Homo sapiens: one gene and its partners. The protein of the gene in region 2 purifies or fractionates together with the protein of the main gene of each other region. This does not show direct contact. Each region holds a gene or a part of one and is shown on either strand. Other genes may lie near its edges. The genes, in order: PLOD2, XPO7, HK1 and POLK.

Region 1 (7,364 bases), on a different chromosome or scaffold from region 2:
TTTTTCTCTCCTACGCCCACATTCAGACATCAAATTTTGTTGACTCTACATTCAAATCTATCTGGAAATTGACCTTCATTTACTGCTACTGACTTGCTTAAAGCCTCCGTCATCTCTCTCCTGGACCACTGCATTAGCTTTCAAGTTGGTCTACAGGTCTACAGACTTTCTGTTTTATTTCTCCACTCACTCTCCCTTATCTTCCTCTAATGTGGCAGCTGTGGACTCTGTGATCCTTTTTAAATCCTACTTCAGATCATGTCACTGCTCTGCTTAGAACCATCCAAATGGCTTTTCAATTCATCCAGGGTAAAGGACAAAGCTGTTACTAGGTTCTACCCTTATCACACTGTCTGTTTATCTGCTTGCCTCCGCCCTGCTTGTTACCTTCTCAGGCTTCATCTCCTACTATTCTTATGCACAGTCACTGAACATTCAATTGCCCTCTTGCTTCCTCACAACACTCCAGGTATTTCTGGTCTCACAGTCCTTGCACTTCCTGTTTCTTCTGCCTGGAACACAGGTCCCCTGTACATCCTGGCCCCCTCTTTTTCTCACCACTTTCAGGTCTTTGCTCAAGAATCGTCTTCTCAGTGGGGCTTTCCCAGGATCCCTTACTAAGGTTTTGGTATACCTCCCCTCCTTATTGGTCCTTCCCAGTTACCTTTCCTGATTTACTTTCTCTCTACCACTTATTACCTTATATGTTTATCTCTGTTTCACCTGAAACTAAAGCACAGTAGATTTTTGTTTTTTCTGTCACTAATAAATTTGTTTTTACCAATATCTATCTAGAACAATGCCTGAGATATAGTAGTCATGGAATATTTTTTGAATGAATCAATGAATAAACAAATGTGCTACTATGGTACTTACTCTTTGATGATGAAAAATAATTGAATCCTGACCTTAACAGACACACTGTCTAATAATAATTCTAAGAAAAGACCCTGTCACAAATGAGAGAGGTTTGCTTCAGAAGTTAGAAATCATGGAACAGGGACATCTAAACCCATCCTGAGGTAGGGTAAGTTACCCCAGTTGGGCTTCCTGTAGGAGGTGGCACTTGAGCTTGACAGACATTAGCCCAATGAAGGAAGGAGGACAGGTTTTGTCATCCTTTTTTTTTTTAGATATAGGGATAACATGAACAAAGGTATGGTTGCTGAGCAAATGCTGCTTCTCTCATTTCTCCTCAAATTTCCTTACCATTTCTGAGCATGTCACCCTGACTTCTTATGATCAAGAGTTACATCATCAGAGTGGCTGCTACCATAGCAGGTTGGGAATGCCTGGGAATTAATGAGTGTCCCTCAGCCCTTAAGTCAATGACTGATAGGTGTTGGGAATATATATCCCAGTTCTCTGACCCATTGACCAGGATATTTTTGAGTGATATATAGTACATCAATTTTGTGGGATTAAGCTCCCATTACCCACTGTGGTTGATTTAATTGGATATTTTCCCTTTCCTGTGTCATTTTAGCTTCACCTATCTGGTTTTCTCAAAACTCTCCACAAACCGCTAGTCACTGAATTTGGGCTCATGCTTGGGCTTCAGAGGAACCCAAATGATTCCTACCTAAACTTTAGAGAATTAAAGTGACAAAGTATTTGGTCTGCTTTAGGAGATAATAAAGCAAACTACGTTGGTTGGGTTTAGTTTGGCATGAAGGAATCTGAATACTAGGTTAGGGAATGTGGATTGTTTCCAAATCTGTTATGAAATCTGTTTGGGGATGAAGCAATCAAAAGGATATCTGAGTATGATTAATCTAGTTGTGGTATATAGTGGTATTACACTGGTGGTAGGGAAAGTCTACAGGAAATGGCATAGGATACACTCAAGAGTGCATTAGTTAGTGAGGTAGCAGTGAGAATGGAAAGGAATAGATGAAGAGAGAACATGAAGGGAAAAAATGACAAGATTTGGAGTCCGGCTCTGTGAGTTGGCGGGTGTGGGGGATGGAAAGAGAGAAGTAAAAATGTCTGAGGCCATATGAGTTAGAGAGCAGTAGTATCAACAGAGATGAGGGAGCCGAGTGGGATCTGGATTTGATGAGTTAAAAGACATATCAGGCCGGGCTTGGTGGCTCACGCCTGTAATCCCAACACTTTGGGAGGCCGAGGCGGGCGGATCACGAGGTCAGGAGATCGAGACCATCCTGGCTAACACGGTGAAACCCCGTTTCGACTAAAAATACAAAAAAAAAAAAAAAAAATTAGCCGGGCCTGGTGGCGAGCGCCTGTAGTCCCAGCTACTCAGGAGGCTGAGGCAGGAGAATGGTGTGAACCCGGGAGGCGGAGGGAGCTTGCAGTGAGGGGATATCGCACCACCGCACTCTAGCCTAGGCAAAAGAGCGAGACTGTCTCAAAAAAAAAAAAAAAAGACATATCGAGTTTTTGCCAATGGAACATCCAAGTAGAAATGTTCAGCAGATGGCTGGAAATGTAAGAAAGCAGGAAGGATTTGGTTTGAGAATTGGGGCTCTTTCAGACTGTTAGAAATGTCTAGGTATTTGAAAATCCCAACACTTGCTTTATACGAGTCTCACAGCACAGATGTTGTGACTCTTAACAGAGAAGGAAGAATGTCAAAATAACCTGAAATTATTAGTGGACTTTTGGAGTTTAAACACACACACACACCTGTGATGCAGAGAAGCCGGTAAGCATTCATGAGGGGAACGGGGGTTTGGGAGGGCAGGAAGCCAGGTTGTAGCTCTCCAAGTTCTTAAAGATACTGGAGAACCAAGGAAGCAAGAAGTCAAGTTCAAGGAGTTTGGCAATTGCAGGTTTGGCTTTCTGGAGACAGATCTGGCCAAAACACCAGCCATTCCTAGCAGAGTCCTTGGACTCAGAGGACTGATGCTGTTTGCTTTGTGCCTAGTTTTATGAAGCTGTACTTGCCACACATGAAAGGCTGTTATTAAGGAATCCATCTTTTAGCTTTTTTTTTCCCCTTCAGACTAAATAAACCTTATTTCATTCTTCTCACAGGTCATAGTTTCCACTTCTTTAATTATTTGTTACTCTTCTCAGAACTTTCTCCAGTTTTCCTCTTCTTTTAAAAAACTGAGACCAAACCTTCAAAACAGAGTAATAACTGGCTTAGTTCTGGGCACAGGAAATGATTCTTTCTAAAATGTCACATCCCAGGCAAGATTTCTTTGCAGGGTTTTCCACCTGTTTTTAATGCTATCAAGATGAAAGCATTAAGTTCATGTTATCTTGATATGTTAATTTTAGACAAAACGTGATCATAATGGAACACATTTTTCCATAATTTTCTGTCTTAATTTCAAAGGCCCAGAGTTATAACGGGTGTTGTCTCGATTCTGTTTTTTTCTAATTTCACGAAAATTTAGGCAGGAGATTCCAGAATGGTAGCAGTTTGGTTCTCTTTCTCCTATAAAATAGCTTATGTCATTAAATGTATGAGGCAAAACTGTCAAGCTTTTTTCTTAATTGTGCTTTTGCTCCCACTCATTCCAACAAGTTAAACCCTTGGCTAGTTAAAATGTGAGAACAGAAAAAAGGGAATTTTCTTAGACATCAGTCAAAAGTGGAAGCAGTGGGGGCCAAGGCTCAGAGATCTCGACCTCTCCGACCACGTCTTTGGGAGTAATTTTCCATGCGGACTGGAGCACGATCTTGTAAGCACAGCCCCGGCATTACACACGTTGGGCTCCGATTCCGCAGGATTTACAAGCCTCATTACTGGAAAGAGTCTAAGGCTCTCTTGGCACAAGCGGCGGAGCAAGAAATGTTCACTGGACAATAAAACTTTCGGTTTACGGAGTAAAATAAAATCACGGCCTTCCTTTTACAGGGTGATGAACCTGCCCCTGAATTAATGAGGGGCGATCCATTTCCATGGCTTAAGAGTCTGGCGAGGTCCCAGTCAGCCAAGATTGCCGCAGATTTGCAGTCACTTCAGACTGGGTGGAGTATCCAAGTCCATAGAAGAGCAAATTCTCACCCTTCGAGGCTGCTGTGGAAGCTACCGGGGCTGGGACAGCAGAGAGGAACCCAGACGGGAACACCGCCCTCCCGCCAGACTCCCGGCGGCTCCTCCTCCCTCTCCCAAACCCACTCCCAAAGCTAAGTGCAGGCTTCCCCGTTCCAGCCAGAAGCGCTGCGTGAGCCTCCACACGTAGCCGCAGGCAGCTCCTTAAATAGCGTCCGCGCTGAGCAAACAGTCCAGACGTGGGGCCCAGGAGGGCGAGCTGAGGCGACCGCACCGGGCGCGCAGCGGCGGCGGGTCAGCCGGCGGCCAATAGCCAGGGCGCGGCCCGCCCCGTCGCCTCCCCTCGGGGAGCCTATAAGGCCTCCGCAGCGCCCCGGGCGCCTGCTGCTCCGTGCCTCCACCGACGACCTCACTCAGCTGCGTTACGCGCCGCTCCGGCTGCCGGCCGCGCGCCTTGCCCGCCGGCTCCCGCCCGCAATCGGCGGCTCAGGGCGGACCCGGGTCTCTGCGTTCTCGCGAGAAGCGCGGCGCTGCGGGGCCGTGGGCGCCTGAGCCCGCGCGGCCCTCGAGGGCCGAATATGGGGGGATGCACGGTGAAGCCTCAGCTGCTGCTCCTGGCGCTCGTCCTCCACCCCTGGAATCCCTGTCTGGGTGCGGACTCGGAGAAGCCCTCGAGCATCCCCACAGGTGAGCACCCCGCGGTCCGCCGCTGTCCCGCGAGGCTCGGCCGGCGGGGGGGCAGTTCATTCATCCACCAGCCCTTCCGCGGGGCTGGCCAGGTGAGTAGTGGGGGCCTGTCCCTCCTCTCCAGGACCGCCGGGGTCTTCCCCAGAATTGCGGTCGGGCGGCGCTGGTCCCTGGGGAAGTGTAGGGGCACCCGCCCTCGTTGACTCCTTGGAGTTCTCGGTGAACTCAGCGTGCCCGAATTTCCCTGCAGAACAAGTTGGAGTTTCCTTTTGGACTTGCAGGTCATGGGCACCAACACCTTTCCTGCAGCTCTCCTTTCCCCTCCTTTCCGAGAGTTGGCATGGATTTATCCTTGATGGACGAGGCAGTACTCCTTCTGTGACCTAAACACGGGGCTTAGTGTACTTTCTAATTGATGGTGACACATTCCTTCCAGCACCCCAGGAAGCAGCCGGTAACACCTCCCTCTTGCCAAAAACAACGCTCGCTCGAAAACCTTAGTTGTTTTCAGTAAGGCTGCCTGGCTACCCAGTACCTCCAGGCGGCAGCTTTCTTCCTTTGGGATCTGAAGGGGAAGCTGTGGACACACAGCTGCTCCCCTTACCTACCCTTTTCTTGAGCCCGGTGCTGTCTCTCGTTTTCAGAAGCTGTGTAAAACAAAACGTTTTATATTTAGCCAGATTAAAGAGAGTTTCACCACGTCTGTCTAAACATGCTTTGCTGCCTTTTGTGGCACATGAAAAATCCTTGGAGTTTTCCACATTTGTGCTCTTTGTGCTCAACTCTCTGAAATTAGATCTTGCATTTAAATGACCTTCTAATGTCCTTTTTGTTTTGTTTTGTTTTTTGTTAAGTCATCTTGGCACCATTTTTTCCCCCAAGTTTATAATAGAGTGCTTTTCTACTTGAACTTTTCTTAAGCCTAAGGACAGAAATTTCTATTTCAGAGTTACATTCAGAAAGTGACATTTGGTTTGCAGTCCAGCTAATCCATGTAGCGATAGTTTTGTCTTCATCTTTAAGTGTTTCAGAAAGCGTCAGCAGGCTGAACTGCCTATCTTTCTACAAAACAGTGCTTGCTTTGTTAGCTTGAGAAACTTCAGCATTCAGATGGATTTCTATCAGTTACAGGATGCTTTTCTTTCTGTTAGGTATATGTGACCATTTAAAAATGGATTTCTGAACCCGTGTGATTCCTCTAAATTTGAACTAAACTTTTGCATAATTTAAAAATATTTCTTCTAACATAATATCTGGAAAGTAGAAAGTAAATACTTTCAGCAAATTTGGAAGTAGAGAAATTTAAAAAGGAAAAACAGAACAAAAAGCCTTCCCCAGAAAAATGTCTTTCTTTGTTGAAACACCCAAGGAGACTTTAACTGGGAAATAAAATAACCTCTAAGGACTTTGTAATATTTAGAGAGGCCTCTTTGGCCTTTGTATATTTTATTCCACTTCATTGCCAACACCCCTAACTTTTTAATAGAGGACATCCCTTTGTATCTGCCTTTATATTTATAGTCAAAATCAAATTCCCTTCTCACTCTGGATTTTAAATTTCATGGAACTGGACAGTAAACTTTTAATGGATTGTGATATCAGAGAAAGAGAATTTTAGGTATGAAAGTTTCCTCAGGAAACGACCACATGAAACCCACTGTTTAAATCTGAGGACTGGTCACTTGGTAAGCAGGCATGGAGAATTCGGTTAGGGTCGAAATGTGGGAAAATACTAATTTGTGATAGGTGAAGCCAGCAGTAGTCAGTTTGATTACAAATTTCGGTGTAGGTAGGTGTTCTCATAGGTTATGTGATAAACTAATAAATGTAGAGGTAAACTGCTTGATAAAGTGGGCAGAATCATGGACTGTGGTCTATTTTATTCTTTACAAGTTTCAACTGAAAATTACTAAATAGAAGCTTATTCGTTGACATAAATATCAAGATCTTCTATAGGACCCTAAATTGTCTAGCTTAATAGTTCTTTAAGAAGAGTGCTTATCATCTCTAACCCTGTATATTTGTCAACATGTCCCAGCTAACCAAGAAGAAATGGTTTAAATCACAATTTCTTGGCCCTATTGACATTTTGAGCCAGACACTTCTTTGCTTTGAGGGACTATCCTGTGCATTGATGTTTAGCAGTATCCTTAACCTCTGTGCACTAGATGCCAGTAGTATAACCTTTCTAATCTGAGCACCAAAAAAACAAAAAAGGCCTAATGTCCCCAGAGGGACAAAATTGCCCAGGGTTAAGAATCCCTGGATTAGACTAATCTATTTGTATTTGAGGCAATATGGCATTATAGTGTTACTGGAATGATAACAGCAAATTATTTTTGAAAACAAATATTTATAGTGATTTTCAGTTTACCCACTGTAGTTGGGAATGTGATACACATTCATCAATTTTTGGAGTGTAGTTTTTCCTAGCTCTGGTGCTTTGTTGACCAGAGTTGAGAACATAGATTTTTGTTAAATTTTTGAGAGTTCTGTGTGCTGTATTGATTCCTTTTGGTTGCCACTTTATTCTTAGCATGGAAAGACTAAATAAGATTTTGGCTAAAATAATCATTTTCTCTGAAAATAACGTATAGGAATTGTTACCTGAAAATTATATCCTTATGGGAGCTTTCAGAGGCAGAACCTTCTTAATCAGTGCCAGTAAATCAGGTTCATACCCTGATTTATCTTTCCTGCCCTTTCT
Region 2 (7,031 bases):
CTTACCAAGTGCAGTAAGTCCTTCAGAAATGGAAGAGAGAATATACATGATGACGTGAGGTTCCAGGCTTGCAATAAAGTTCATATGGTCCTGGGTCAGGACTTCCAGTAGTGAATAATAAGACTGGCTGAGCTTGGGGTAATCCTGTGGGAGAGGAAGAGGAAGAAAATCAGCTTAGGCACTATGCACTCCAGCATGCAGGGAGACGATCTTAAATAGCTTAGCTCCTTTTAGGTGGGAAAACAGAAGACTTAGTTAGAGCAAAAGGAGCTAGCTTACATAGTTTCTCAAGAGCAGTGTTCAATCTTGGTCTCAGGTGAAAAAGGCTGAATGTGATGAGGAACAAGATTGTGGCAATGCAGCGTAAGGCTTACCAAGAGATCACTGTGAGGAATAGAGAGGAGCAGCTTGATGAAGGTCTGCAGAGCATTGTCCAGGGCATCGTCTCCATAGAGACGAAAGACTCCGAAATTGACGTAACTCCCACTGAGAGCAGCCTTCAGCATGGAGAAGCAGATGGAGATGCCCTTGAGCTTCAGAGCATAGACCTGATCCTTTGGGACCTCTCCTAGTGTCAGGATGCGATTGCCTGAGTAGACATGTCATATATGTTTATTCAACCACATTAGAAGCGCTCGTTTAGATCAGCCTTCCTACTCCAAAGGCATACAAATTCCAGTAGGCCCCTGGTGACAGGTGGCACTCTAATGCACATGTATTAGCATACAATACGAATGCTGTCCTGGCTCCTGCCAGGACTGGCCAGAGACCCACATGCTGCTTACAGTGTGGTGACTGAGCTGGAATTAACTTCTAGAGGCATGATTATCTGAAGCACTTACCATACATTGTTATCATCTTGCTGGTTTCTCGGAAGAGTAAGATGCCATTGGGGGAAGAGACATCAAACTGGAGTCGCTGGGACCTGAGCAGAGAGCACAGGAGGAGAAAAAGTCAGAGGTGTTTTCTTGGAAGACTGGGGTACTTGAGGCTCTCATCTGAGTACCTTGGGTGATCCTGCATTTACATTAAGGTAAGCAATTGCCTATCCTAATATGAGAATAACCAAGTTATAGATATTTAACCATGAAGTAGCTTCTATATTGAAGACCAACATGCTAGATTCAGATTCTGCTGCTCAAATTAAAAACATTTATAAGAAAAAAAAAGCAGCAGTAGATAAAATTACTATTTGAAAATTCTCAATTTTATTTGATTAAAGTATACTTTCTTTTTTTTGAGATGGAGTCTTACTCTGTCGCCCAGGCTAGAGTGCGGTGGCGCAATTTCGGCTCACTGCAACCTCTGCCTCTCGGGTTCACACCATTCTCCTGCTTCAGCCTCCCAAGTAGCTGGGACTACAGGTGCCCGCCACCACGCCCAGCTAATTTTTTGTATTTTTAGTGGAGATGGGATTTCACCATGTTAGCCAGGATGGTCTCGATCTCCTGACCTCGTGATCCGCCCGCCTCAGCCTCCCAAAGTGCTGGGATTACAGGCGTGAGCCACCGTGCCCGGCCTTGATTAAAGTATACTTTCTACCCGTCGCCTCTTGATACTAATGCAGAGCCCTTCAGCCATTAGTTGGCATGGACCTTTATGGCTTCAGTGGCAACTGAGGGAGAGGGGCCAAAGCATTGTTACCATTTTATATGAAGAAAAGATGCATAGGGACTTGGAATGGTCCAAAAGAAGCCAGACAGAGAAGGCCATTTGTAACCATCTTGGTTTTAAGTTCCTGACTCTTTTGTCTGCTCCACATTTTGATGAGCTTTATTAGATTCAAGTTGGTAAGACCTCAAAAGCCCAGGAGTCCTTCCTCCTTCCTCCCCCCCACCACACTGAATCCATCAACATCTAACTCTAAAATAAACCCCAAATCCACCTTTCCCTTACATTCTCTCTGCTTCTACTCTTACCTGCCTTTAGTCCCATTCTTCACATGGTAGCCTTTAAAAAACTTAAATGAGATCATTTTAATCCTTTGCTGAAAACACTCTAGCGGCTTCCCACAGCAATGAGAATAAATGCCCACTCCTCACTACTGCTGTGCGAAGGCACTAGATGATCTGGCTCTGCTCACTGGTCTGACCTGCTCCCACAGCCTCCCCCCACCAACCAGGCTCCTGCCACAAGTCCCAGCAAGCCTGTCCTATCTCAGGACTCGTGCAGATGTTTTCTGTTTAGAAGACTCCTTATCTTTGCAGGGCTACCAGAATCTTTCTTGTCATTTAGATCCTAGTTAATATTACCTTCTCTGAGAGGTCTTCCCTGACCCTCCTGTCCTTCAATTCCCCTCTATTTTACTGCCTTGTTTTATTTTGTTTCATGGCACTTAATCACTGGAAAGATCTTCCATACTTGTTTTTATTGTGTGTCTTCCCCACCATTTGTAACATCAAAGAGGGTAGAGATTTTGTCTGGCATAGTGGCTAGGAAAGTTTGGCAAAGAGTAAGTGCTCTCAAGTATCTATTTTATAAATGAGTAACTCTTGAATATAAGTCTCCTGGGAGGTTATAGCCTCTTTAAATATTACCCACTCCATAAGGTTGTTTTAAAACTTATTAATTCTGCTAGGCCTGGTGGCTCACGCCTGCAATCCCAACACTCTGGGAGGCTGAAGTGGGCGGATCACCTCAAGTCGGGAGTTCAAGACCAGCATGACCAACACGGAGAAACCCCGTCTCTACTAAAAATAGAAAATTAGCCGGGCGTGGTGGCGCATGTCTGTAATCCCAGCTATGTGGGAGGCTGAGGCAGGAGAATCGCTTGAACCCAGGAGGCGTTAAGTTGCAGTGAGCCAAGACTGCGCCACTGTACTTCAGCCTGGCGACAAGAGAGAAACTCCGGATCAAACATAACTAACTAAATAAATAAATAAAATAAAAATAAAGAAAAAAAACCTTACTAATTCTCTCAGGACCGCCATGAGAGACCAATGCCCATACCTGAAATTCTAGGAAAGCTAAGGTGCTAGACTTTTCTTTTTCACTGTCCTTAAATTGTTTTGAAAATCTTGCTCACTTTTTAAAAGTAAATTTTTATTGATCCTGCCACAACCTCTCTAATAAATACCTTTCTTAAGAAAGGGTATTCTAATATCTATCATATCCTTCTCAATGTCTCTAACCATGAAATGTGATGGACAAGGCACCATTACCAGATGTTAATTTCTTATCTGTGGGCAGGAAATCAGAATCTTGGTTGCCAAATTTACTTCTCCTAAGAGTAGACATCTGGAGATTCTTTTTATTTTACTTTTTTGAGACAGGGTCTTGCTCTGTCACCCAGGCTGGAGTGTAATGGCATAATCTTGGCTCACTGCAACCTCTGCCTCCCAGGCTAAAGCAATCTTCCTACCTCAGCCTCCTGAGTAGCTGGGACTACAGTTGTGTGCCACCATGCCCAGCTAATTTTTTGTAGAGGTGGGTTTCACCATGTTGCCCAGGCTGATCTAGAACTACTGCATTCACGCAATCTGCCCACTTCGGCCTCCCAAGAAGCTAGGATTACAGGCATGAGCCACCATGCCCCACTGGAGACTCTTTTTAAAAGTGACTTATTAGATGGGCGCAGTGGCTCACGCCTGTAATCCCAGCACTTTGGGAGGCCGAGGCACGCGGATCACGAGGTCAGGAGATCGAGACCATCCTGGCTAACATGGTGAAACCCTGTCTCTACTAAAAATACAAAAAATCGGCCGGGTGTGGTGGCGGGTGCCTGTAGTCCCAGCTACTCCGGAGGCTGAGGCAGGGGAATGGCGTGAACCCAGGGGGATGGAGCTTGCAGTGAGCCGAGACTGTGCCACTGCACTCCAGCCTGGGAGACAGCAAGACACCGCCTCAAAAAAAACAAGACAAACAAACCAAAAAAAGTGACTTATTTCCTGCAGTTGACTATGGTTTTGTGTAGTTAGGAATACTATTCTTTCACACAAACAAAAACACAAAAACTTTTCGAATTTTAAAATGCAGTAGTGAATCTTATTATTTCCCACAATCTGCCCAAAGCACTAGATACAGCAAATTCTCTCAGATAACAGGGCAGATGTGCCCTTGCAAGCTCTGCCTCCTGCTTACCTATTATGAACCAATTCAGCCATCAACTTGAGTACAGGTGTAGTACAGGCTGGATCATGGTACCAGAGCTCAATTGCCCGTTGGAGAATTGGCATATAGGATGGATATCTGTAAATGAGAAGCTAAGGAAAGATTTCTGATTCCAGAAAGGTACAGAATTTAAAATAGTTTTTCAGCACTAGCCAAGCAAAAACTTGTCAAACTACAGTTCTTTAAGTTCCTGTCTCTTGCTTGCTAATCTTGGAGTCTTTCTAACCAGAAGATACTAAAGTGATTTTGTGTTCTTTAACCTGTGAAAGGCATCTCATAATACATTTTAGTTTACATAGGGCCTTTCTTCTGAAGAGCATGATGTATTTCATACTGTTATTTGTCCTTTCATCACTTCTATGGTATTATATGGGATCAGCTCATTTCCTTTACATAACTATTAAAGAGGCACCTGGATTTGAAATAATCTTCACAAGGGTATGAAGTCAGTAAAGTTAGACTTCCTAATTTGTAAAAGCTGTTTATTATTATTATTATTATTATTTATTTTTTTTTGAGATGGAGTCTCGCTCTGTCGCCCAGGCTGGAGTGCAGTGGCGCGATCTCGGCTCACTGCAAGCTCCGCCTCCTGGGTTCATGCCATTCTCCTGCCTTAGCCTCCCAAGTATCTGGGACTACAAGCGCCCGCCACCACGCCTGGCTAATTTTTTGTATTTTTTAGTACAGACGGGGTTTCACCGTGTTAGCCAGGATGGTCTCGATCTCCTGACCTCGTGATCCGCCCACCTCGGCCTCCCTAAGTGCTGGGATTACAGGCGTGAGCCACCGTGCCTGGCCTTTTTATTTTTTTCAGCAGACTGAAACATCTCTCTAAATATAGCAAAACCAACAGTTCTACAGTGGTATATGGTTCCACAGGCATTTATATTTGAGATCCAAAAGAGAAACTGGGAGACTACTTCATTCATGTTCTAATCTCAGACAACCTTATGTCTGTCATAAGGTGGCTTCCAGGACACATGCAGGCCTTCTGGCTAACTCTTCATCTTCTCTGCCTCACTACCCTCCCTTCCCCCTACACCGTCTCTGGACCCTATCACCCAATCACACTCCAGTTAAGGCAGGCTGTAGTGTGCTCCTAGTTTGAGTTAGGATACATCCATTCAAAGAGCATCATGAAGCTGGTCTTGGCATTGAAAGCGAAAGCGATCCCTCTCAGGTCTCTTACTAGGCCAACTAGAGTTCGCTGTAGTAGAAGGCAAAAATGTGTTAAAATAGAAGAAAAGACAAAACTGTAACAATCTGATGAGGATTCCACACATGTATCATCAAATTCTTTCTCTCACAGTTCAACATATACTCCTTCTCAAATATTCGGATTCAATATCTTCTATGCTAGAATGGCATATTTTCATTCTAGCAGTGGAAGTTTGTTTTGGAAGTTTGAAGTTTGTTAGCTTTGGAAGTTTGTTATGCCAAGAAAATTAGCTTTGGAAGTTTGTTTTGCCAAGAAAATACGTTCCTGGTTCGTAGCAAAAATAGAGGCTGATAAGGTTTTAAGACATTGAAGTAATACATCACATGTAAAAAGTGAAAAAGCTTTGAGTCCACCCAGGGAGGAAAGGAGGGGAGGGAGGGGGAGAGAGGGTGGGGGGCGGAGAGAGAGACAGAGAGAGAGAGAGAGAGAGAGAGACACGGCAAAGAAACCAACTCAAAAAGCCAGAAAAAAGCAAAAAAGAAAAACAGAAGTCCCAAAGAAGAAGAGGTAGAAGAGCCATATATACCCTAAAGGAAGTCAGATGCAGGCCCTGCCAGGAGGAAGACAAAGGGGAGTCTACACAGCACCTCTCTCTTTGGGTGGGCCATCTAGATAAGACTATGTTTAATCAGTACTCTCCATTTGCAGAAAAAGAGACTGAGGCTTAAAGAGGCCAAAAAACTTCCCCCAGTCATGTTGCTAGGTAGCAGGAGGGTCCAGATCAGGACTCATACATAATACCAAGACTCCAAATCCAATACTCACTCTCTCAATAAAACTTTTACTTGGGACATGAACAGCAATAAAACTACTATAAAAATCATAGTTTGGGGGTTGTCTCCAAACGTGGAGACAGAACAACAACAACAACAAAATGTGCTCAAGAAGGTTGTACATTTGGGGATCTTGACACGTTTGGCAAAAACGACATCACTTCTGTTAACAGTCTGCTTGTAAGCAAACAGTTCTCTCCTAAGCTGATACCACAAGCTCAGTTTTCCAGTCTAAGACTTGGTCAGTCTCTTAAAAGACTTTACATGGGACATGACAAAGAAGTGGGTGACAGCTGTAGTCCATTACCAAGGTTGTTCTTTTGGTTAATTTTACTTGCTTTACATGAAACTAATACCATATAATGGGAAAAAGGGCTGATATTCACTGATATCCCTAAATCCTTGATATTGGTTGATACTCTAGCCTAAAGTTGGTAATATGTTCCACAATAACCCAAGCTTTGAATGGTACCTATCTCAGACTCTAAAATACAAGTATAATTAGGGGAGAGAGGGTTGCATTAAGTGTTGTTGCTTTCTGTCTACCCTGCTGATTTGTAGATGGAAAAAGAAAAGGCTAAAGATGAAAAAGGAGAGCTTTAGAATGCTAGGTAAAGCCTGGCATTTTTTTCTGGCAATACCCTGGCTAGCTGGTAGTTCTACCATTCAGCCTTGGTGCCCTGAGGAATACTGTAAAAAGTCCTACCAATAGTAACATCCTGGTGTCTTCTGATTTGGACACAGATCTATACAGGTCAAGAGAACAGTATGTATGAAGTAAAAAGATGAAGAAAGCAACAATCAAGAAATGACAATTCTAAGAGCTAGAAAACAAGAACTTAAAATTCCATATATGTGGAAATTCACTGGGCATCGTGTCTCGTGCCTATAATCCTAGCCACGTGGGAAGCTGGGGCAGGAGGACTGCT
Region 3 (7,373 bases), on a different chromosome or scaffold from region 2:
TCAACAGCACCCATTAACCAATTTATGCAGATGCCGTCTGGATAATGGGGTTCCAAGCTGGGAAGTCAGACACCTGAACTGTTTCAACCCAGGATATATTTTTATGGAGTTGAATTATTGATGTGCCTCATAGGCAATGAAGAAAGAAATGACACCATTTTCATGATCACGTTTGGATTCTAAGCAATCCCAAAAACTTCCCCGGCATGGTCCCCAGCTTCCCTTCTCCTACCTCTGGCTCTGAGGGCAAGAAGATAGATGAGAGTTACTGAGGGATGCCAGGTCTGTCTCCAGAGCCCCGGAGGCTGCCTACAGCTGGAGGGCTGAATCATCATGGCTGCCCACGCTGGGGGGGAACCATCCTCAGCAGGTCCCTGCTGGGAGGCAGGCAGAGTCCAGCCCCACAGGAAGAACAGGGGGTCCCGCACCTTCACCTAGCCTTTCCTATGGTGAGTGGTACGTGGAAAGAGCTGGTCTCTAAGAAATCCTGGGCCCCAGAAGAGCAGATGTGGTCCCCAGCATCTGCACACTTGGGCAAAACTGAGTAGGTCACTGGAGCAAGTACCCACTATGTCACTGTCCTTAGAAGGCCCAGGCTGGAGTGCGGTGGCGCAATCATAGCCAGGACCACACCCACAGATGGCTGTGCCACACAGTCCACTATGCAAAATGAGTGGACCCCCTGGCAGGAATCCACGTACTCCCCTATAGAAAGCAGCATAGGAAGTCCGTGGTGAAATGCAAGCAAACATCTTGTTTTTAAGAATCTCCTTGACAAATAATATCTGGTGGAAACCTTGGCCTTAAGACCTTCCTCCAGCAAGGTTCTCGGGGAAGAGAAGGGAAGAACATCAGAATCCCAAACTCGGAGTGAGGAGGGATGGAAGGGTCAACTGAATCACACACTCAGGTACCTACGGGGGCCTAGGAGATAGACTGTGCATCCATAGATGTGAATTGAGCCACCCACAGGAGTGGAGAGCTCTGGGCCCACCCTAGACACTGTATGTCTGAGAAAACATGTCCCACTGAATGGAGTCCAAACCTCAGCCCAGCTCAGCTGCTGGAGGCCACCGGCAGCCAACAGCCAGCAGTCTGTTGTGGGTGGTGGTGGGTGTGGACACTGGAGGTTTACAAGGTCACCCAGGCACCCCCCAGCCCAGCAGCCCACTGTCTTGAGCTATAAAGGACACCACGTGCAGGAGGACAGTGAACTCTTGGCTTCAGGAGGCCTGTTCTGGGCACTTCTTGCCATGCCGGGAGAACTGTCTCCCTGGTCCAATGGGAAGAACATCAGTGATGCACAACACCACTAGAGAAAACTCATGAAATGCACACACCCGCACGCACAGCTCCCAGGTCAGTGGCCAGAGGGAAGCTCCAGGGTGCTCCATAGGAGCAAGTGTTTCGAGTGCCACGGTTTGACAACCCCAGAGTGCTTAAAGCCATAAAGAGCAATGGCAGATGGCATTCCCAAGCCTATCTCCTACCTACCTCACTCCCGGTCCCCACCCACCATGGGATCCAAGATCACGGCAGGGTCCCCAGCGGCTTTGTCTCTCAGTACCCACTCCCTCCTGGAAGCTGACCTCCAGGAGGACCCTGGTGAAGTTCCTGGGTGGAGGCACTGGGAGACCTGGATCCCCCTGACTGGCTCTGCCTCTAACTCACTGGGTGACCTTGATAAGGTCGCTGCCCTCAGTAGGCCTGTTTCCTATGGTGCCAGATGAGGGAGTCATCTTAGATGCACAGGAAGAGGATGGAACACCCTATGGCTTGCCGGGCAGAAAATCAAGGCCTGTCACTCCTGCCTTTCACCTGTAGAACTCCACCTGTCTGAACGCCAAAGTCAAGATGACTTTGCCAGTCCATCCCAGCTAACCCCAGCAATAACGTCACCACGTTCAGGGTGGGTGGGCCTGGAGCCTGTACCAGACCTGGCACTGATAAAACGGGCGTCTTTCCCTACAGCTTAGGCTGTTTCTTTAAAATATGGTAGCACAGCTGGCAGAAGAGACAAATACACCTTTAAGACCTGCCAGCGGACAGTATTTTACACTAAGATGTCAAAGGCAACAACACCTCAGGACAGGAGGATGCATGCGTCCAAGTGCTAGAACAAGCATGCCACAGGCGTCCACCCAACTCAAATGACCAGTCGCTTATTTGAGCTCCTGTGCTGGCTAGAAATTACAGCTTAAGAGGAATAAAAAATTCCATTCAGACGTGCCGCTCCAGACACGAGGCCTATGAGCAAAGTTTCCGGTGGCCTCGCCGCCCCTCCCCGTTCCGGGAAGCCGGGCGGGTCACCTCGTCCTCAGATTAACGAGCAGCTCAAACAACTGGGAGAGCCCGGCGACAGCTTCTCCGGGGCACCCGACACCCTCCGCCAGGAACCCCAAATATGGGAGGCCTGGCCTCCAGCCAGCACCCCCGCCTGCTGCTCGATCACCTCCCCAGCATCTCCATGATCACACCTCCTCCCACGGCGCTCGGACCCTCCCGAACAGGCCCTGCGGAAGGGCCCACCGGCCACCTCCCCGCACAGCCCGGGGGCCTATCTGACATCCAGGGCCCGTTTCAAGGACACTGCAGCAGGCAGCCCGGTCTCGGGGGTCTTCCGCCCGATTGCCCCCCTCCCAAAAACGCACACACACAGAGACACTGACAATGCCGGTAGAATCGAAGGCGAAGGCTTTCCTTGCGCCCTGCAGTCCAACTCGATGCTGGCCCGGAGAAGGCCGGGCGCCGGAGGATGGAGGCAGCGGAGGCGGCGAGCGGATGCCGGAACGCAAGGCTGCGGCCAGGACCAGCGGCGGCGCGGGCGGGGGCTCACCTTTTTGACCTGGTCATCCTTCAGCTCCGTGAAGTAATAGGCCAGGAGCTGCGCGGCGATCATGCTGGCGGTCGGGGTCGCGGGGCGGCAGGCGTGGGGACGGTCGGTCCTCCGCAGCCCTGGCGAGCCGTGGTCCTCCGGCGGCTGCTCGGCGGCTCCTCCTCCTCCTCCTCCCCCGGCTCCTCCCCCTCGGCCCGGGGCGCGGCGACAGCTCGCGCGCTCCCGGTCTCCGCGCTCCCGTCCCCTGGAGGGTGACAGCCGCCAGCCGACCCACCTCCTCCACGCCCATTGGTTGCGGCGCGCCTCTGCAACGCCCGGCGGTGGCGTCCCGGCCGGGGAGCGGGGACGCGGCGGCCGCTCCCTCCTGCGCCGGAAAGGGGGCGGGCGACGCAGCGAAATCCCCCCCGACCCCGCATCATCCTGCACGTCCCCCACGTAGGGAGCCGATGCGGGCCTTCACGCGTGGCGGCGCCGTGCCCGGGTGGGCCGTGCCAGGCGGGGAGGTGCGAGGCGCAGGCAGGAGGCACCGCCCGGCTCCGCCGGGACGAGAAGCCCCTAGGGCTAGTCTAGGGACTGGCAGCCCCGGGGGCACGAAGGCGGTCCCATTCCTCGGAAATGAGGGCTCGCCCCTAGGAGTCCGGTGGACGCCGAGGTGCCGGAGGGGACTTGCAGAAGTGGGCGTGGAAAGCGGGCGGAAGCGGGAGCCGGGGACGCTACGCAGTCCTCGCACCCGGGTCCCGCGCCTTCCTCACCCAGGCCGAACGCACCGGCCTACCTGGGTCTTCAGCGGCAGTGCATCACCTCTCCCCGGCGTGCCCCGCCTAATCTCCAGCTGGCAGATTTGTATTGCTGAACCCAAAGCGACACCCCAGAGCACCCGCCCCCGAGTCACCAGCTCCGGTGGCTCTCCCTCAGGGCGCACTCCCTCTGGGCGGGACTTGGGCCACAGGTCGTGGCCTGTCCCCATCCTCTGGGCCTCCTCTTGCTCTTGGGCATCCAGGCCCACTGGGACTTGGGGCACGGTTCAGCGCCCCTTCCCAGGTGCCGTGTTTTCTACTTTCCCAGAGGAAGTTACGTAGGATGGGAGGACTCCCTAGAGGTGCTACCAGGACAGCCACTTTAGGATTCTTAGATTAATTATTTCTGTGTTCCGGAAGCCTCCAGGAGCTTTAGTGCCTTACAAAATGACATGTAATGAGCTCAAATATACAAACAAGTTGTTGCTATTCTGGTTAGACAGGTAAGGAAATTGAAGCTCAGTGAGGCCTCAGTCTTGCTGGACTTTATACAGCCAGGAAGTTGTAGATCTAGGATCACAGCTTGGATCTGTGAGTCTTTGAAGCAGGTGCTCACCTCTAGGGTTTGCTGTGGTCCCAGTTGTATAGAGCCCCTCTGCCTAAATAGGTCACTTTCCTGCAACCAAGTCTGCACCATATGGTGCCCTGAGATCCAACCCCCAACCTCTACCCTAGCTCTTGACTTTAGGAGTCCCTAGCCCTTGACCAGGCCTAGCAAAGGTACAGTCAAATCAGAGGGAGGGATGACGTAGGTTCAGGGGCCTGACAGCCACCATCACCCACAGAAAAGGAGGAGCTTAGATGCAGTCCTGAGGCCCCAGCTTCCTGTCCAGGTCACAGTCCCCACCCCCTGCCTTAGGGCCTATGCAGAGGGGCATCTTGAATCACCTCTGAGACTGTGTCTTCATCCATAAGATGAAGACACTAATGCCCACCTCACCTCCCCTTGATTGTTGTGTAATACTGTACGCAAAATACGTGCACATAATACACACTTAAGGAATGGCAGGTATCATAGAACTGACTGAAAAGTTAATGCGGTTAAAGCTTCAGGGACTCTCACTTTCATTCCTACCCTTCTAGGCCCTGGGAGGGCCTAGCAGTGTGATATTTGTATATTTATATTTGAATTATTTTCCATAGAGAGTGCCAATTTATTTAATTTTCAAGCCCAACAAAACCTGGATTTGCCCTGGATCATAATTATAAACCAGGAAGAGAGAGATTTTCTGGTACACATCAAACATTTGGAACTACCTACATGGCCGTTAAGCAAAATGGAGTGAATGAGAACAAGATGGTTGTTCTCAACTGCCATTTCATTTGAGTTCTGCAGATCTGCCAAGCTCACAGGGCTGGAAACTCCTTGAGGATGGAGGACTATGTTTTGCTAATTGCTCTGTCTCCTACACAAGCGCAGGGCCTGGCACTTGGCAGGCTGAATAAGCCTAATGCATAATCAAAAACATGGCCCTTAACCCAGCCACCAGCCGGTGCCATCACCCATGCCCAACCCGTTGTTACAACTCCTATCTGAGCTGGAGCCAGGGAGAAGCTGACGCTTGGAAGAGCCAGGTTACCCTGAAATGTCCTGTTTGCAGGCAGGAAAGCTGCCTCTGCTTTGTCTTCCCTGGCCTTTGAGAGGGAAACTGCTTCTCAAGGTGACTCATTCCTCCCCACTCCATGAATGCAACCAGGCCCCAAGGCCTGTCAATATTTCCTGAGAAATGTCTCTAGGCCTGACCTATTGCCACCTCCCAACTCCCAGTCCATCTCCCTGTGCCAGAAATATTACAAGAGTCTTCTAACTGTCCTCCTCGGCTCCTGGCCTCATGCCATCCAAGTCATTCTGAGCACCAGGTCACATTAATCCTGCTAAAATGCAGCATAATCATGTCATGACCCTTCCCTAAATCCCTTCATGGCCCTCTCCTTCCTGAGAGAGCCAATTTAAACATCTCTGCCTGGTTTCCGAGGCCTTCTGTAATCGACTCCACTCTTTCCCACTTATCTCTTCCTCCACTCTGGCCGCAACAAGGCCACTTCCCACCATCCTCTGCCCCCACCATGTCCACTCCATTTGTTCGCCGCTCATATTCCCTTCCTTGCCCTGCCTTCTCCACTCACCTCTGCCTGACCAAGCATCCCCTCTCATCTAAGGCCCAGCTTGCCAACCTTCCCTGGACCACAGCTACTCACCCCAATCTCCCAGGCCTCAGCACCTCGACAGGGCAAACTCAGGCTGTGCTCACAGTCCATCTGGATATACACCCAGACTCCTCTTTACAGGGCAGGAACCTGGGATGCCACAGGTGGGCCATCTTGCCCAGTGTCAGGTTGTGGTAGAGTTTTGAGCCAGGACTCCAGCCTAGTCCTGATGCCCAGCCAGTGCTCTGTCCATCCCACCCCCAACCCCTCATGCAACCTGGGCCTCAGATAAGTAACACTGAGTCATGACTGCCTAACTGATATGGGTGACTGTCTTCTAGGGGGCTGGTCCTATCTGCCCCAATCAGACAGCTTCCTGAGGCCAGGGCCCATGCTGCACTGCTGTGTCCCCTCTCTGTTGTTCCAGTGCTGACTTCACTAATTTCCTTAATAATTTGCCTCTTTTTGCTCTTGCATAGCTCTTAGATCCCTGCTAAGGCTCCTTGACAGTTACTCCCTGGATCCTCAGGAAGACCCCAACCCACAGGGAGTCCTTAGTTCCCTCCCTCTCCAGATGGCCCTCCACTTCCCTTCAAGTCCCCTGAACTCTCTCTACTCATTTACTGTGGTACCTCCTACACAAGTTGGGGTTGGAGTGACCAGTGCCAGGCTGCCACCCCAGGAAACGCACCTGCTTATAAGACAATAAAGGCTGCCTTCTAAGTTGGAATGTCTGTACCAATTCCCATCTGACCCATGGCACTAGGAATGTTACTTCAGGAGTGATCTCCAACAGATAACAGCTGTACCTCCCGCACCTGGGAGCACACTCTGAATAGCAATGTTTACATAACGTTGACAGTTTGCAGAGCAATTTCTCATTTATTGCTTCATTTCTCCTGATAACAGCCTGGTGAGGTTAGAAGGGCAAATATCATTATCTGCACTTAATCAGTCAATGAGGATGTGAAGGTTATAGAGCTTGGGTGTTTTGGTTTTTTTCTTAAATTGAAATGAGGTCTTGCCATGTTGCCCAGGCTGGTCTCGAACTCCTGGACTCAAGGGATCCTCTTGCCTTGACCTCTAAAACTGCTGGAATTGGCCAGGCGCAGTGGCTCACGCCTGTAATCCCAGCACTTTGGGAGGCTGAGGTGGGAGGATCACGTGGTCAGGAGTTCGAGACCAGCCTGGCCAACATAGTGAAACCCTGTCTCTACTAAAAATACAAAAATTAGCTGGGCATAGTGGCAAGAGCCTGTAGTCCCAGCTACTTGGGAGGCTTAGGCAAGAGAATCGCTTGAACCTGGGAGGTGGAGGTTGTGGTGAGCCAAGATTGTGCCACTGCACTCCAGCCTGGGCGACAGAGTGAGACAGTCTCAGAAAAAAAGAAAGAAAAGAAAAGAGAGAAGAGAAGAGAAAAGAAAAGGAAAGAAGAAAAAGAAAAAAAGAAAAAAATGCTGGGATTATAGACGTGAGCCATTGTGCCCAGCCCTATAGAGTTTGTTAAGGTCTCAAAGAGAGCGAAAAAACGAAAATTAAGACCAGTGCCTAAACCATTGGAGCATCTTAGAACCCTGACACTATGGGACTGT
Region 4 (4,632 bases), on a different chromosome or scaffold from region 2:
TATTATTAGCCCCGTTTGATAGAAAAGGATTCTGAGGCTTGAAGACGTTGGTGGAAGAAACAGAACTTGCCCCTAACGAGCATGACTTCTAAGAATGTGTTGTCAAGGGCGTGACTCACTCACCTTGCTCTACAGCAGGGGGTCACTTTGCTCCATCCCCAGGCCAAATCCCGCTGCTGCCTGTTATTGTAAATAAAATTTGTTTTAACACATTAAAAAAAAAAATTCCTGCAAAATCTACAAGCCCCAATGAACTCCCAGCTCTACTCTACCACTTCTTTGTATAATTTTGAGAAATGTCAAGGTTGAATTTATAACTAACACTATAGGAACTTCAATATTAAATCATTTCTAAATGGGCTTCCAACATTTTCTTTTGAATAAAGTAAGACTTGATTTCTCATTTGAAGACCATGAATTTTAATCTTTCCTGGCGGATTCTTTTGAAAAGTGAAATAATACAGAAGCAAGTCAAATTCTGACCCCCCAAATAAACTTCAAATAAGAAAGGTAATCAGGTTTTCATTTATTTATTCTTCTTACAAATTTACAAAAGATGTATCATTTTAATGTAAATTATGTAATATCAATGTTCATTTCAAACTTGTCAGTTTTTCCCTTCAAATTATTGTGCACCAAATTTGAGGCATTAAATTCAAAACAATGTTTCCTAATCAATGAAAAAACAAACATGACAAAATATTATTTATTTTATCAGAACACCGCCCATAACCTCAAACTTTCCTCTTTTAAAAAAGGGAAATGGGCCTAATGTTTGTAATAGAGATATGATAAAAACAATAGCAGGTAAGTTGAATTGAGTATTATGCAGAAATATCAGACAATGTACTAATATGGAAAGTATAATATGTAAATGGAAAAACAGGGCACCAAATTATATGTATATGTAGCATGTTTACAAGTAAAATTCTAAAAATCAAAAGAAAATACCCACACAAAAGAAGGAATAATAGTGAAAACAGCAGCAGATCAATGGAAAGCATACAGCCAAGTACAGAAAAATCTCCCAGTCTGGGTAACAAAGTGAGACCCCCTCTCTACAAAAATTAGCCAGGCATGGTGGTGCATGCCTGTAGTCCCAGCTACTTGGGAGGCTGAGGTGGGAGGATGGCTTCAGCCTGGGAGGCAGAGGTTGCAATGAGCCAAGATTGTGCCACTGTGTGCCAGTCTGCGTGATAGAGCCAGACCCTATCTCAAAAAAAAAATTTTTTTTTAATATAAATAAAAAATAATTTTAAAAAAAGATCTGAATTGTGTTATCCAAGTTTGAAACTGCTTTCAAATTCTAAACCAAGAAATTTACTTTTAAAAAAATCCTCTTATCAATGACAGGAGAAAATGCATCATCATTTTATGCTATATAGCCTTATAATAGTATGTGGTACTTATCTTACTCTAACAGATGAGACAAAAACTCCAAAGCAGTGCATTATGTGAAACTTAGCCATAGCTGGACTTTATTTCCCTGACAGCTTGGGCTAAATAAGAAGCTATGAAGTATACTGTGGGAGGTATTTTCTTTTTCACTCTGTTTCAAATATCAGGTTAGTTCTCAAGCAGAATATTAATTCTAAGCGTGCTAATACATAAAAGCTTGCCCACATGATCTGGCCCTACTCATCTCTCTGATCTTGGGCCCTACAATTCTTCTCCATTCTTCATCCACTGTTTCCTGGTGGAGAGCCATCAGCTTCTATTTCCTCCCTTTGCCTAGAACTTCTCTCCCCCACCTCCACTTCCGAATTTTTAAAATAGTTTTGATCCTTCGTATCATTAAGGTTTCAGGTTAAATGTCACTTCCTCAGAGGAGCCTTCTCGGATCATCTTATTCTAAAAGTGTCCCCTACCTTCATGTTCCATTCCCTTATGCTGTTGTCTCTTTCCTTTGTAACACTTACCACTGAAATGTCTATTTGTTTAGTGTCGGTTTCCACAACTAGAATGTAAACTTCATAAATACAGTGATTTTTAAAACTTTGTTGGGCCAGGCGTGGTGTCTCATGCCTATAATCCCAGCAATTTGAGAGGCCGAAGTGGGAGGATGGCTTGAGGCCAGGAGTTTGAGGCCAACCTGGGCAACTTAGTGAGACTCCAGTCTCCACAAAAAATTTAAAAATTAGCTGGTGGTGGTGGGGCAGACCTGTAGTCTTAGCTACTTGGGAAGCTGAGATGGGAGTATGGCCTGAGCCACGGAGGTCAAGGCTGCAGCAAGCTGTTATCATGTCACTGCATTCCAACCTGGGTGACAGAGCAAGACTCTGTCTCAAAAAAAAAAAAAATTAATTAAGTTTCTTACTGCATCTCCAGTGGCTAAAACAGTACCCGACCTGCAATAAGTATTTGTCAAATAAATATGGAATGCAATTTAGCCATGGGAACAGTAACTTGTCTTTGAGTCCTGAAAGCTTTAAGTTTTTCCCCTAAAGGTCTAGACTAAAAAAATATGTTCAATTCTGAAGTAAACCTTTAAAACCAGGTCCTGTTCAAGGATTCCATATTTTTAAAAACATCTTCCTAGATTTCTCTTTGCCCTCCTCTACCAGACGATTTCTCCCTAGACTCCCACTTTGTATATTCATCTATTATAGCCCTCCCTACATTGAATAGAAACTGTCCCTGGGGTGGCTCTCCATTTTTTGAGGACAAACATGTCTTAATAATCTTTATGTCCTTTATCAGCTAGGATTCAGCTATAATTAATAGGAAAACCCAAGTAACTATGGCTTAAACAATTTTTTAATTTGTTTCTTGTGAAAGTCTCAAAGTGTGCAGGCCAGTGCTGATATGTCTCTGTTTTACAAAGCCCCAAGAATCAGCCCCTGCAGCCCACTACTCTACCATCCCCCTGTGCAACCCTTATGTTCAGGTGTAAACGGCAGCATCTGCTTCCAGGCAGCAGGATGGAACAGAGAAATAGAAAGAAGAGGCAAACAGAATGCTACAGCTGCAAGAAAGGAAGGTTCCCAGAAGCAACCACACACAGTACTTCCTTTTTTTTTTTTTTTTTTTGAGACAAGGTCTCGCTTTGTCACCCAGGTTGGAGTGCAGTGGTGCAATCTCAGCTCACTGCAACCTCCGTCTCCCGGGTTCAAGCGATTCTCTTGCCTCAGCCTCCTGAGTAGCTGGGATCACAAGTGTGTGCCACCACGCCCAGCTACTTTTTTGTATTTTGAGTAGAGACGGGGTTTCACCATCTTGGCCAGGCTGGTCTCGAACTCCTGACCTCAGGTGATCCACCCGCCTTGGCCTCCCAAAGTGCTGAGATTACAGGCGTGAGACACCGCACCCGGCCAGTACTTCCTTTTATATCCCATTAGTCAAAACTCAGTCACATGGCTACCCCTAGCTGGGAGGGTGTGAGCTTCAAGGATGGGAGATACATTGTAGTCATCAATTCTGTAACACCTATTTTTCACATTATCACATCTTTTTAATTGAGATACTAAGTTGTCTGCCTGAATTGAAGTTGAGTTCTTCCATAGAGGATTTGCATATGCTTCTGCCAGTCACTAGGGGCAATACTAACCTCACTTTAATTACATTTTCTGCTTGAGCTCTTTAGGATGATACCATTTGTGTGAATTCAGATTACAAGCCTACATGTGTACTGGTTTATGGTTCAAATTCTCACTGGCAGTCCCTCCTTCCAACCAGTGCCAAGGCTGAGCATGCAAATTGCTTTGCTGTGGGGAAAAGCAAGAGAGATCAGATTGTTACTGTGTCTGTGTAGAAAGAAGTAGACATAGGAGACTCCATTTTGTTATGTACTAAGAAAAATTCTTCTGCCTTGAGATTCTGTGACCTTACCCCCAACCCCGTGCTCTCTGAAACATGTGCTGTGTCAACTCAGAGTTGAATGGATTAAGGGCGGTGCAGGATGTGCTTTGTTAAACAGATGCTTGAAGGCAGCATGCTCCTTAAGAGTCATCACCACTCCCTAATCTCAAGTACCCAGGGACACAAAAACTGCGGAAGGCCGCAGGGACCTCTGCCTAGGAAAGCCAGGTATTGTCCAAGGTTTCTCCCCATGTGATAGTCTGAAATATGGCCTCGTGGGAAGGGAAAGACCTGACCGTCCCCCAGCCCGACACCCGTAAAGGGTCTGTGCTGAGGAGGATTAGTAAAAGAGGAAGGAATGCCTCTTGCAGTTGAGACAAGAGGAAGGCATCTGTCTCCTGCCTGTCCCTGGGCAATGGAATGTCTCGGTATAAAACCCGATTGTATGCTCCATCTACTGAGATAGGGAAAAACCGCCTTAGGGCTGGAGGTGGGACCTGCGGGCAGCAATACTGCTTTGTAAAGCACTGAGATGTTTATGTGTATGCATATCTAAAAGCACAGCACTTAATCCTTTACATTGTCTATGATGCCAAGACCTTTGTTCACGTGTTTGTCTGCTGACCCTCTCCCCACAATTGTCTTGTGACCCTGACACATCCCCCTCTTTGAGAAACACCCACAGATGATCAATAAATACTAAGGGAACTCAGAGGCTGGCGGGATCCTCCATATGCTGAACGCTGGTTCCCCGGTTCCCCTTATTTCTTTCTCTATACTTTGTCTCTGTGTCTTTTTCTTTTCCAAATCTCTCGTCCCACCTTACGAGAAACA

What was found.
Region 1: the proteins of XPO7 (region 2) and PLOD2 purify together in Homo sapiens (affinity purification with mass spectrometry; 2 studies listed by BioGRID, with this or other methods). This does not show direct contact.
Region 3: the proteins of XPO7 (region 2) and HK1 purify together in Homo sapiens (affinity purification with mass spectrometry; 2 studies listed by BioGRID and IntAct, with this or other methods). This does not show direct contact.
Region 4: the proteins of XPO7 (region 2) and POLK purify together in Homo sapiens (affinity purification with mass spectrometry; 2 studies listed by BioGRID). This does not show direct contact.

The regions. Positions count from the first base shown.
Region 1 is NC_000003.12:146,158,174-146,165,537, reverse strand, and holds the start of PLOD2 (procollagen-lysine,2-oxoglutarate 5-dioxygenase 2 isoform 1 precursor), read left to right. Parts: upstream 1-4,353; 5' UTR 4,354-4,548; coding exon 4,549-4,657; intron 4,658-7,364. UniProt on the Homo sapiens protein: Forms hydroxylysine residues in -Xaa-Lys-Gly- sequences in collagens. These hydroxylysines serve as sites of attachment for carbohydrate units and are essential for the stability of the intermolecular collagen cross-links.
Region 2 is NC_000008.11:21,992,649-21,999,679, reverse strand, and holds part of XPO7 (exportin-7), read right to left. Parts: intron 5,318-7,031; coding exon 5,229-5,317; intron 4,189-5,228; coding exon 4,081-4,188; intron 926-4,080; coding exon 843-925; intron 590-842; coding exon 375-589; intron 145-374; coding exon 6-144; intron 1-5.
Region 3 is NC_000010.11:69,314,474-69,321,846, reverse strand, and holds the start of HK1 (hexokinase-1), read right to left. Parts: upstream 3,001-7,373; 5' UTR 2,900-3,000; coding exon 2,837-2,899; intron 2,784-2,836; exon of another isoform or gene 2,670-2,783; intron 1-2,669. UniProt on the Homo sapiens protein: Catalyzes the phosphorylation of various hexoses, such as D-glucose, D-glucosamine, D-fructose, D-mannose and 2-deoxy-D-glucose, to hexose 6-phosphate (D-glucose 6-phosphate, D-glucosamine 6-phosphate, D-fructose 6-phosphate, D-mannose 6-phosphate and 2-deoxy-D-glucose 6-phosphate, respectively).
Region 4 is NC_000005.10:75,605,866-75,610,497, reverse strand, and holds the end of POLK (DNA polymerase kappa), read right to left. Parts: 3' UTR 507-4,632; downstream 1-506. UniProt on the Homo sapiens protein: DNA polymerase specifically involved in DNA repair. Plays an important role in translesion synthesis, where the normal high-fidelity DNA polymerases cannot proceed and DNA synthesis stalls.